2 separate regions of the Homo sapiens genome follow, and region 2 is linked to region 1. Evidence: fine-mapped expression QTL. Tissue or cell type: monocytes. Region 1 holds a variant in brackets; the other region holds the start of a gene. All regions are shown on one strand. Distances are between the middles of the regions.

Region 1 (5,516 bases):
CTCTGAGGGAAGACCCTGATCTCAGACTTACTTCTCACCGACTACCCTGCAAGCTCCAGGCTTTGAGGAGAGGAAAGCCTGGATGTGGCCTGGGGGAGAGGAGAGGCCCTCCAAACCTTGGGAGGGTCTAATTCTTGCTCCTCCCTCAATTTGACCTAAGGGAGCCTGCATCTGCGTAGGCCCTTGGGCTTCTCCTCTCCTCTCTAGACTGGCCTGGAGGTCCCTGCAGATCCCCAGGGAGAGCGGAGCTGTAGTTCCAGCTCCCCAGGCCCCCTCAGTCTGGAGGGCTGCCGCCTGGCTGTATCCGCACCTCTTCTGGTCCCTGCCTCTTCAAGAAATTTATTCTAGATACTGCTCCAGGGTGGGCTGGACTCTTTCCTACTTTTTTTTTTTTTCTTTTTTGGCTGATGTTGGTTCCACCACATCTGCCACAAAGCTCCAGGTGCCACCAGTCTCCCCTGGGACCTCCTCTGCTCCATTCCGGCCTGCTCCCAGCTCACCCTGAGGGAGAGCTGCACCGAGGGATGCACAGGGCCCTGCTGTCAGCTGCAGACCGGGGCCCTGATCAGCCCAGAGTCAGAAAAGACTTTCAGGCTCTGGAGGTAGCGGGAGGGGGTACGTGGCCTCGGCAGTTGGAGCTTAGAAGCTGCTCAGCCCGGGCTGGCCTGGCCTCCTCTTCCTCTCTGCTGGAACATCTCACTGATGACTGAGCCCTTGACCTTGGCCTCTTTTGCCCAGGCCTCCTCTCTGCTGGGATGTCTCACCAATGACTGGACCCTTGACCCTGGCCTGTTTTGTACAGCACAGACTTCTTGGCCCTGTTGTCAGGGTTGGGGGTGTGGAGGGGACCCCAGAGGTGGGGAGTTGGGGGATGCATTACCCCTTCTGCCCCTTTTCATGCCCTCCATACCCCAGGCGTCTACCAAGGGCAGAGACTGTCTTGTCTCTTTGATACTTTTCTGCATAACTTGAACTTGCAGGTCATCTCTGAACAGGGTACCCCTGTCCCCCTTCCTAAGCCTTGTTACCCTGTCCCAGCCTCTTCCTCCTCCTGGCCCACCTCTCGCCTTGCGATATGCCCAGGGTCTGCACCTATGGGCAGTGCTTGGAGCCGAGGCATGAGTGTATGTGTATGTGGGTGAAATGTGTGTGCGTGTGTGTGCGCGTGTGAGCGTGTGTGTGTGTGTGTGTGTTGGGGGACAGGTGAGAAGTTTCTCCCCCCTCCACCCACTGTGGGGGCGTCTCCCTTCCCCTTGGCAGGGAGCAGGTGAGGGAGACTCCTGGTATTTTTTGAACACCCGTCATTCCCCTGTGGGTCTGGCGGCAGAGCCATCTCTCCCGGGGAGCCTCCCTGCCCTGGGGCCTGGACAGCTCCCTCAGCACTAGTTGCTGGTGCAGACCGGCTTCGTCCAGCGCCCCCTCCTGGCGGCCTGGACCTGCAGGGAAGGGGCGGTGCCCTGCAGGATGCCAGGGGAAGCCGCCTCGGGCCTCGGCGGAGGGGAGAGGGTCGCTTGAGCGCCATGTGTTTGCCAACCTTGTGTTCATTTCCACAGGACTTGGACCTGAGAGTTAGGGTTTCCAAGAAAGACCCTAGAAGTCCCCTGCCTGTCTCCCCACTCTGGACCCTAGCCGGAATCAGATGTTGGGACCTAGTGGGTTCCTGCCACCTGGAACTTACCAAGTCCCGACTTCACTCCTCCACTTACTCCTCCCGGGCAAAGCCTCCCCGCAGTGCTCTGGTCCCAGCGCTGGGCTCCCCTTCCCCGCCGGCGCCTTCCCGGACAGTCCAGTCGGCCTGGGGTAGGGGCGCTGCGGGACAGAGGGTCCGAGTTAAATGCGGGAGGATGCGGGAGCCCCGTGGGAGGGAGTTGGGGTAGGAGGGAGTTCCTCAAAGATGCAAACCAAGCCCAGCGTTGGAGGGGGAGAGCAGAGTTAGGAGAGAGTGAGGGGAGGGGCGCAGCAAGCGACTGGGAATGGGAGAAGACACTGGGGTGAGGAGAAGAGGGGTGCAGAGACAGGGAGATGAGAGATGATTGGAGAAGGAGCGAGGGGGACG[C/G]ACAGGCACAGAGAAACAGCGCGAGGAGGAGAGATCGAGAGAGACGGGGCAGAGGTGGAGAGAGATGAGAGACCAGCTGAGAGGCTGCCCGAGAGCTTGGGGTGGGGGAGGGGAAATGGATGAAAAGGCGGAAAAAGGACTCGGGAGCGGGGAAGAGGTAAATGGAGATGTGGGTTGGGGGCAAGAATGGGATGCAGAGGAAGGAGAGGAGGATGAAGGAGCCAGGATGCGGGGCAGTGGGGAGGGGGTTGCTATCTGGGCACTGGGTGAGGGGAGAGCTTGTTCCCCCAAGGACGCCTGCCACCAGGTGTCCTTGCCACACCTTGTTCCCCAAGGACACCCACCAAACCTGTGCCCTGGTGCGGGGGATAGAACTGACCTTTCAGAGGCTGGAGGCCCGGGGCACAGGCAGCCAAGGCCGCATCCTTTTGGGAAGAACTGGAGTGAAGGAAGCCACTTCAGAGGACGTAGTGGGTCCAGCTGACTTAGGAGTGGGTCAGCGCCGGGTGGAGAGGAGGGAGGCTAGTTCCCTGGTGGGGTAGCCTGGCAACATTCCCATTCCACCGCACCTGGCCAGCTGCCATCTTGGCAGAGCCAGGGGGAGATGCACCAGGGAGTTTGGAGTCAGGAAGGCAGAGTTGTGTGGGCTGAAGTCTGCGGGAACCCCAGGGTGACACAGGCAAGGGGTAGAAGTCAGAGTGGGGACCAAACCATAGACTGGGGCCCTGGGTTCTGCAGAGGTGTGGATGGGGCAGGTGGCAGGTGCTCCAGTGGGGGCCCCAGGTGAGGCCCTGATGGCCCTCCTGGGGCAATAAAGACATCATGGGAAGGGGGCTTTGTGGTTTGCCTCTGCTCTCGTCGGGCGATCTGGCTTTAGCCTTCAGGAGGAGGTAAGCAGAGGAGATCAGTGCCTGTTTCTGACCCCAGGAGGGCCTTGTTGGGCTCCAACCTAGAGCCTTCCGGCTTCAGGTCCCAAGAGAAGTCCCCCCCTAACTGTGACCCCCCTAACTGTGATCAGGGGTCTGCCATTGCCCGCTTTTCTCTGCCTGATCTGGGGACTCAGGAGAGGCCACGGCAGCCACAGCCTAGGGGTGGTTCAGTCCCTGGCCCACAGTCTGGTCAGTTGAGTCCTTCTGGGAACCGGGGCTATGAAAACTTTCGTCTTTGGGGACCGGTACCCATGAAGGAAAACTTTCCTGAGGGGGTGAGGACCAAAGAATCAAGATCCTTTTCAGGCCTGATAGCCAAGATGATGAGAACTTTTAGATAAGGCTGTGGGGAGAGTCCCTGGCCTTTTGAGCATCCTGCTTGGGCACACGGGGAATAACCTTTCTCCAGCTTCCAGTGTGAACTGAGAAAGAGAAAGGGAAACCCTGTCTTTGGAGAAGCTGGGATGTTCCCAGCACCAGAAACTTCTGCAGGCCCCTGCCTGGCCCACGGCTAACCTTTGGGTGGGACTGGAGTTTCCTGAACAGGGAACAAGGGAGCCTTCCGCAGAGCTCTGATGGGCAGGCCTCCGAGGGCCTGTGCTGTGTGCTGTTAGGATAGCTTGGTGTTGTCTATACCCCATTAGTAAGTTTTGTCTGAGTGTGTCCTCGCTGTTCATTGTCTAATTTGGTAACATTTATTTTGGTCCTGACCCCTTCTGCTGCTGCTGGGTTTAAGCTTCAGTGCAGGTGGAATGACATTCAAATAAAGAAACACTTTCTATCACCCACGCTGGCTGCCACTTCTCTGAGTCACTGGGATCAAGAGGGGTAAGATTCCAACCCTATGGATCAGGTTTGTCTGGTATTAACAGAACCCTACTACTGTGGCTTAACAAGATAGTTTATTTTACCATCACATTAAAAAAAAAAAAAAAAAAAAAAAAAGCCTGGAGGTGGGTAGATCACGGCTGATATGGCTCTCAGTGTTATCCAGAACCCAGGCTCCTATCTTTCTGCACTGCCATTTTCAATCCTGGCTACATCCTCAAGAACACCTCATGGCCCAACGTGGGCTGCTGGAGCTCCAGTCACCTGGTCCACATTTCATTTGAAGACTTCTGGAAATTCCATAGGACTGTGTCACTTGGGCCACATAACAGTAAAGGAGGCTGAAAAAGTGTGGTCTGTTATCTCGGCGCATTGCCAGCCCAAATAAAACTGGGGTTCTTGGCCGGGCAAGGTGGCTCATGCCTGTAATCCCAGCATTTTCAGAGGCTGAGGTGGGTGGATCACCTGAGGTCAGGAGTTTGAGACCAGCCTGGTCAACATGGCAAAACCCTGTCTCTACTAAAAATACAAAAATTAGCCAGGCATGGTGGTGCGTGCCTGTAATCCCAGATACTCAGGAGGCTGAGGCAGGAGAATTGCTTGAACCCAGGAGGCGGAGGTCGCAGGGAGGTGGGATGGCGCCATTGCACTCCAGCCTGGGCAACAGAGCAAGACTCCGTCTCAAAAAAAAAAAAAAATAGGGTTCTGATACAAAGGAGAAAGGAGTGAATAGAGAGAGGGATACAGTAATCTCTGCACACCTCTGACAGCACAGGCACGACTTGTCCAAGTCCATACAGGCAGAAAAGAGTAGAGCCTCATCTGCTCTAGCCAGAGTGCTCAGTCCAGTCACTTTGCCTCTCTCTAAAGCCCCATTGAATAAATAGAGAAAACAATAGTGACTCCCCCAAGGGAAGCTGTAAGCAACATACCAGGGAATATATGCACTTTGCTCTGCAGGGTATCTGGCACGCTGTAATGTGCGCAGTACCAGGTAGCTACATTGAAGACTTGGAAATGGAGTCCTCTTCCAACACATTTTAAGCACTTAGTGTATGCTAAGCACTTAAGCTAGAAAAAAAATGAGCAAAACAGAGATGCTGTCTTAAGCATAATTCTGGTTGGGGAGATGAACATGTGAAAATAACGCATGACTTGCCACATGCAGGGTATTGTGGGTATCCTAGGCAGGAATACTTTAAATGGCTTTTGGTGACGTGGGCAGCGTAGGAGGAGGTCTTGCTGTAGGATGAGAAGTTAGGCAGGAGGGGTCAGGAAGGTCAAAGAGAAGGCAGCTTGAGGAAAAAGACTGAGGTAGGCAGCAGAACTGTGTATGGAGGACGAAAAGCAACTTAGTTTGAAATGTGAAGTACGAGGCAGGGAGGAGTCAGAGATGAGTCTAGAGAGACAGGCGAGGGCCAGACCATGAGAAAGCTTGGGGGCCATGGACAGGAGTTTGGACTTAAGAGCAATGGGGAACCACTGAAGGATTTGAAGCAGAAGGAAAAATGACTCAATTTGCATTTTAGAAAGAGCACTCTGGTGGTAGCATTAGGGGGCTGGATTAGGGGTAGACTGTTAGCCCATTTCTGCATTGTTATAAAGCCATACCTGAGACTGCATCATTTGTTTTATTTATTTATTTTGAGATGGAGTCTCCCTCTGTTGCCCAGGCTGCAGTGCAGTGGCACAATCTCAGCTCA
Region 2 (5,253 bases), 140 kb after region 1:
CCAAGTTTCTCTCTGACTTCATCTGCAGCTGTTTGCTCAAAGCCAGTAGGTACAGTGGCTCCAATAGTGACTAGAAGCTCAGATTCACTTCCGAGGTCACTTTCTGTCACTTGTACAGACTTCTGGTTCTCATGAAGGTTCACATCTAGGAGTTGGTTAGTGGCTTCTTCAATGTCACACATGTTGGCTGTGCTTCCAAGATCCCTAACACTGTCTCTTTAAAAGCAGTACTGTCCTTTAAAAGAAAAAGAAATAAAGCCCAAATATTATCATCTCATATTTCAGTTATAATTAAAAACATGGGCTCTGGAGGGCAGGAAGAACAAGGCAACACATCTGATAAACAGTCACCAAAGTAAAAAGGGTTGAATAAACATGGGCACAGAGTGCAGGCTGTAAAACATGATGTTATTATTAAAGAAGCAATACAGATACCATGGGAGAAAAAGAGACAAGAAGTATTTCCATAGCATGCAATGTTTGCTTTGGGGTAACCCATGTTGACAAAAGCCATTTCATAACTACGACAGAAACTGCAGATCACATTCAAATCCATTTCTGCATCTAGATGTTAAGAACATGGTTAGTTAAGAATATAGGGCTTGGCTGGGCGTGGTGGCTCACACCTGTAATCCCAGCACTTTGGGAGGCCGAGGCGGGCAGATTGCCTGAGGTCAGGAGTTCAAGACCAGCCTGGCCCACATGGTGAAACCCCGTCTCTACTAAAAATACAAACATTAGCCAGGTGTGGTGGTGGGAGCCTGTAATCCCAGCTACTTGGGAGGCTGAGGGAGGAGAATTGCTTGAATCCGGGAGGTGGAGATTGCAGTGAGCTGAGATCATGCCACTGCACTCCGGCTGGGGTAACAGAACAAGACTCTGTCTCAAAAAAATAAATAAATAAATAAAATAAATAATAATAATAATAATAATATGGGGCTTTTGGAGTTTCAGATAGATACAGGTTTGAATTCTTGCCTCCACCATCATAGGTTGAATGACTTATGGCAAATTAATTCTCCCAAACCTTCAAATGTAATTAAGTAATTAGTAATACCTCTTTCCTAGAGTCGTTAGGAGACAAGTGAGAGTAGTACCTGGTTAGGCCAATAATTAAAACTTATTAATAGGCTATCTATCTTCTTCCCTCCTGTGAAATAGCATTTCATGCATTTAAAAATGATTAACTGGGCTGGGCACACTGGCTCATGCCTGTAATCCCAGCACTTTAGGGAGCTGAGGTGAGTAGATTGCTTGAGGCCAAGAGTTCGAGACCAATCTGCGTAAGATGGCAAAATCTCATCTCTACCAAAAACACAAAAAATAGCTGGGCGTGGTGGTGGGCGCCTGGAGTCCAGCTACTTGGGAGGCTGAGGTGGGAGGACTGCACTCCAGCCTGGGTGACACAGTGAGGCCCTGTCTCAAAAAAAAAAAAAAAAAAAAAGAAAAAATTAAAAATAAAAATGGTTAACTGAATACTTACTATCTAATGATTACAAATGTTCAAACGCCTACTACTTGCCAGACTCTGGGATCCATAGATGGGCATCAGGAGAGAGATCTTGGAAGTAATCCGAAATAGTAAAACAAATTTCCTATGCATAAGCTTTTGTGTGTGCTTGGGGTGGGGGCCGGGGGAAGTATTAGAGAGGTGGAGGGGCCATAGCTTACACGAGATTTTCAAAAGGTCTGTGACTCAAAATAACTTAATTGAGTACAGAATACCTATAATGTCCTTGTGCTGTGCCAGCGATACACGACAGTGTTTAACACTACGTCAGTTCCCGCCGTTAAAAAGCTGACAGTCACTGTGAATACAATCTCCATCTTCTAAAAAATGCAGCTGAGGTCAGCTAAAGGACGCGTTCCGCACAAGGTCAGAGAGCCAATGAGAGGCGCAGAATGAAAGAGAACTCACGTCTCCCAACTCCCACCTACAGGGCCCGGGAATCCTAGGGAGCGGGTAAAGGCCTGGGAGAGGGAGCAAGATGGGCTCCGCCACGAGATCCGCCTGAAGTCCGGCTCGGCGCCGGCCTCAACTGCAAGAGGAAGGCCACCCCTCTCTCCCCAAGCTGAAACACCAGAAGAGCCACACTCGGCCGTTCCCAACCGCCGCCAGTTACCGGCCGCCAGCGAAGACCCTTTCAGCTCCCACACTCCATTGGCCTCTTGCGGTCAGGTCACGCCGCCGGAAGCCGCCCCCGGAAACGGAAGTCAGGCTACGAGTCACGGTGGCTCCGCGCTGGCGGCGGGTTCCCCCACAAGGTCTTGGGGAAAGGAGCATGCGCTGGAAGCTGTGTGCTGTTGGTTTTGAGGATCTTCAGTAAGCTGAAAGCGGAGAGTCAGGGGCCTTGTGTCCTACCATGGTATTTGCTAACGTTTAGAGAGTGCTTCCCCTTGCCGAGCACTGGGTAAGCGCTTCACATGCGTCATCTCATTTGGAACAAGTCTCTTTTGTTCTAGCACCTATGAAGTGGCAGAGACTGATTTCTGTTTTAAAGCTGGAGACACCGAGTCTCTCCAGCTTATTTAAATATCTTTCTCAAAATGTCATGCCACTAGTTCCTGATTTCTGTATTGCCATCACTATTTTAGCACTGTTTACTTCATATTTTTCTTTAGTTTAAAAAAAATAGAAATAGTGGGGCTCACTATGTTGCCTAAGCTGGTCTCGAACATCTGGGTTCAAGTGATTCTTCTGTCTAGCCCTCCTAAAGTGCTGGGATTACAGGCATGAGCCACTGTGCCCAATCAGATGAACTTTATTTCTCATAAAGGGTTGAACCTGGCCGGGCACAGTGGCTCATGCCTGTAATCCCAGCACTTTGGGAGGCTGAGGCGGGTGGATCACTTGAGGTCAGGAGTTTGAGGCCAGGCTGGCCAACATGGTGAAACTCCATCTCTACTAAAAATACAAAAGTTAGCTGGATGTGGTGGCCTGCACCTGTAGTCCTAGCTACTTGGGAAGATGAAGCAGAAGAGTTGCTTACCCAGGAGGCAGAGGTTGCAGAGAGCCAAGATTGTGCCACTGCACTCCAGTCTGGGAGCAAGACATCATCTCAAAAAAAAAAAAAAAAAAAAAAAAAAAGAGTTGAACCTGCATGGTAGCCATTTTGACAGACTGGGAAGCCTAGCTTCCAGTCAGAAGCCAAAAACAGGCACTTCCAGGGTTGGAAGAATAAGACAGGGATTTATGCTAAACACAGTGGCCAAATATACATGTTAAATAAACTGTAAGAGGGGTCACGAATATTTATGAAAGGAGCAATTTGTGCATGTGCAGTTGAGCTTCATGCCTCTCTGTGGATCCCATGTTTAAAAAATGGTGGCCTTAGCATGATCCAAGGGTAGAGTTTTCTACCGCTTGACTTCAAAAGGTGAAGCAGGGGATGTGAAAACCCTCACTGCACGTCCTCTGTCGACTGGCCAGAACCACTCCCTGGATGGTGGGTGATCTCTTATCAGGAAGGAATGCTAGTCGGTTGTTCTATTGAAACTGCAAATGGGAGGGTCAGCATCAGGCTGGTGGAGTGAGTCTTTCAAAAGGGCTGGTTTCTGTTTAACCCTTAGGAAAGAAAATCTAATGGCGATTATAGAGGGAGGGGTTATAAAGAGGTGTGTCCGACTTCCCATCCTGTCATGAGTAGGAACTCAGCTTCCAAGTTTTTTCTAGGGTCTCCTTGGCCAAGAGAGGGCCTGTTCAGTCAGTTGGGGGGCATAGAATTTTATTTTTATTTTTCAGTTGACAAAAGTTAACTTATTGTGAAAGGAACCCAACAACAAAAAGATAAACCGAATTTAAAACAAAACAAAACCAAAAAGAACACAATTTATAAATGTGCAAAGGGGCTGGGAGTGGTGGTTCATGCCTGTAGTCCCAGCGCTTTGGGAGGCTGAGGTGAGTGGCTCGCTTGAGCTCAGAGTTTGAGACTAGCTCTGGCAACATGGCAAAACTCTGTCGCTACAAAAAAATGACAAAAATTAGCTAGGCATGGTGACACTCACCTGTAGTCCCAGCTACTCGGGAGGCTGAGACAGGAGAATAGCTTGAGCTGGGGAGGTTGAGGCTGTAATGAGTTATGATCACATCACTGCACTTCAGCCCAGGTGACAGAGTGAGACCTTGTCTCAAAAATAAAATGAAAAATATGTAAAGGGCTTGAATAGATATTTCTCCAAAAGATGGACAAATGGCCAATAAGCACATGAAAAGATGCTGAACATCATTAGTCATTAGGGAATTGCAAATTAATCACAATGGGATACTCATCAAAATGACTAAAAGTAAAAAACAAAAAATCAACAGTTCCAAGTTCTAATGAGTATGTGGGGCAATGGAGCACTTATACATTGCTGATGAAAATACAAAATGATATATGCCCTGGTATGTTTTAGCTCTGTGACTCCACCTAAATTTCATCTTGAAGTATACTCCCATAATTCCCATATATTGTGGGAGGGACCCAGTGGGAGATGATTGAATCATGGGGGTGATTCCCTGCATACTGTTCTTGTGGTAGTGAATAAGTCTCACAAGATCTGATGGTTTGATAAGAGGTTTCCACTTCCGCTTCTCCCATTCTCTTTCTTGCTGCCGCCATGTAAGAAGTGCCTTTCACCTTCCACCATGATTGTGAGGCCTCCGTAGCCACATGGAACTGTAAATCCATTAAACCTCTTTCTTTTGCAAATTGCCCAGTCTTGGGTATGTCTCTATCAGCAGTGTGAAAATGGACTAATACACGTCCATTGGAAAACAATTTAGCCTTTCGTCAAAAAATTAAACATAGAACACATTACTCACCAATTCCACTACAGATGCTTTCTGACTTAGGATGGTTTGACTTACAATTTTTTGACTTTACAATGGGCTGATGGGTTATAATGCATTTTTAACTTACACTATTTTCTGCGTATGGTGGGTTTATTGGGATATAATCCCATTGTAAGTCAAGGAACATCTGTAATAGCTTTATACCCAAGAAGACTGAAAACAAGTGTTCAAACAAAAACTTGTACACAAACTGGGCATGCTGGCTCATGCCTGTAATTCTAGCAATTTGGGAGGCAGAGGCGGGAAGATTGCTTGAGCCCAAGAGTTTGAGACCAGCCTGGACAACATAGGGAGACCTGTCTCTACAAAAAATTTAGAAAGTAGCTGGGTGTGGTGGCACTCATCTGTGGTACCAGACACTGAAGAGGCTGACATGGGAGGATTGCTTGGGCCCAGGAGTTCGAGTCTGTAGTGAACTA

Evidence for each region. PIP is the estimated chance that this variant, and not a neighbour inherited with it, causes the effect.
Region 2: it holds the start of THUMPD3, and the variant in region 1 is fine-mapped to the expression of THUMPD3 in monocytes (CEDAR, PIP 0.91).

What each region holds. Positions count from the first base shown.
Region 1 is chr3:9,496,618-9,502,133 of GRCh38, reverse strand. LHFPL4 (LHFPL tetraspan subfamily member 4) reads left to right here. Exons shown (of 4, transcript NM_198560.3): 4 at 1-3,773. Among named protein-coding and RNA genes, the nearest start is that of LHFPL4, 54 kb to the left of the region's middle. RefSeq lists an enhancer at 83-808. The variant C/G (reference allele first, on the strand shown) is at 2,057.
Region 2 is chr3:9,359,998-9,365,250 of GRCh38, reverse strand. THUMPD3 (THUMP domain 3 tRNA guanosine methyltransferase) reads right to left here and starts at 2,197. Exons shown (of 10, transcript NM_001114092.2): 1 at 2,124-2,197; 2 at 1-235. The coding sequence starts at 182. It also overlaps a transcript of SRGAP3 not described here. RefSeq lists enhancers at 1,748-1,807, 1,828-1,907, 1,978-2,037, 2,258-2,467.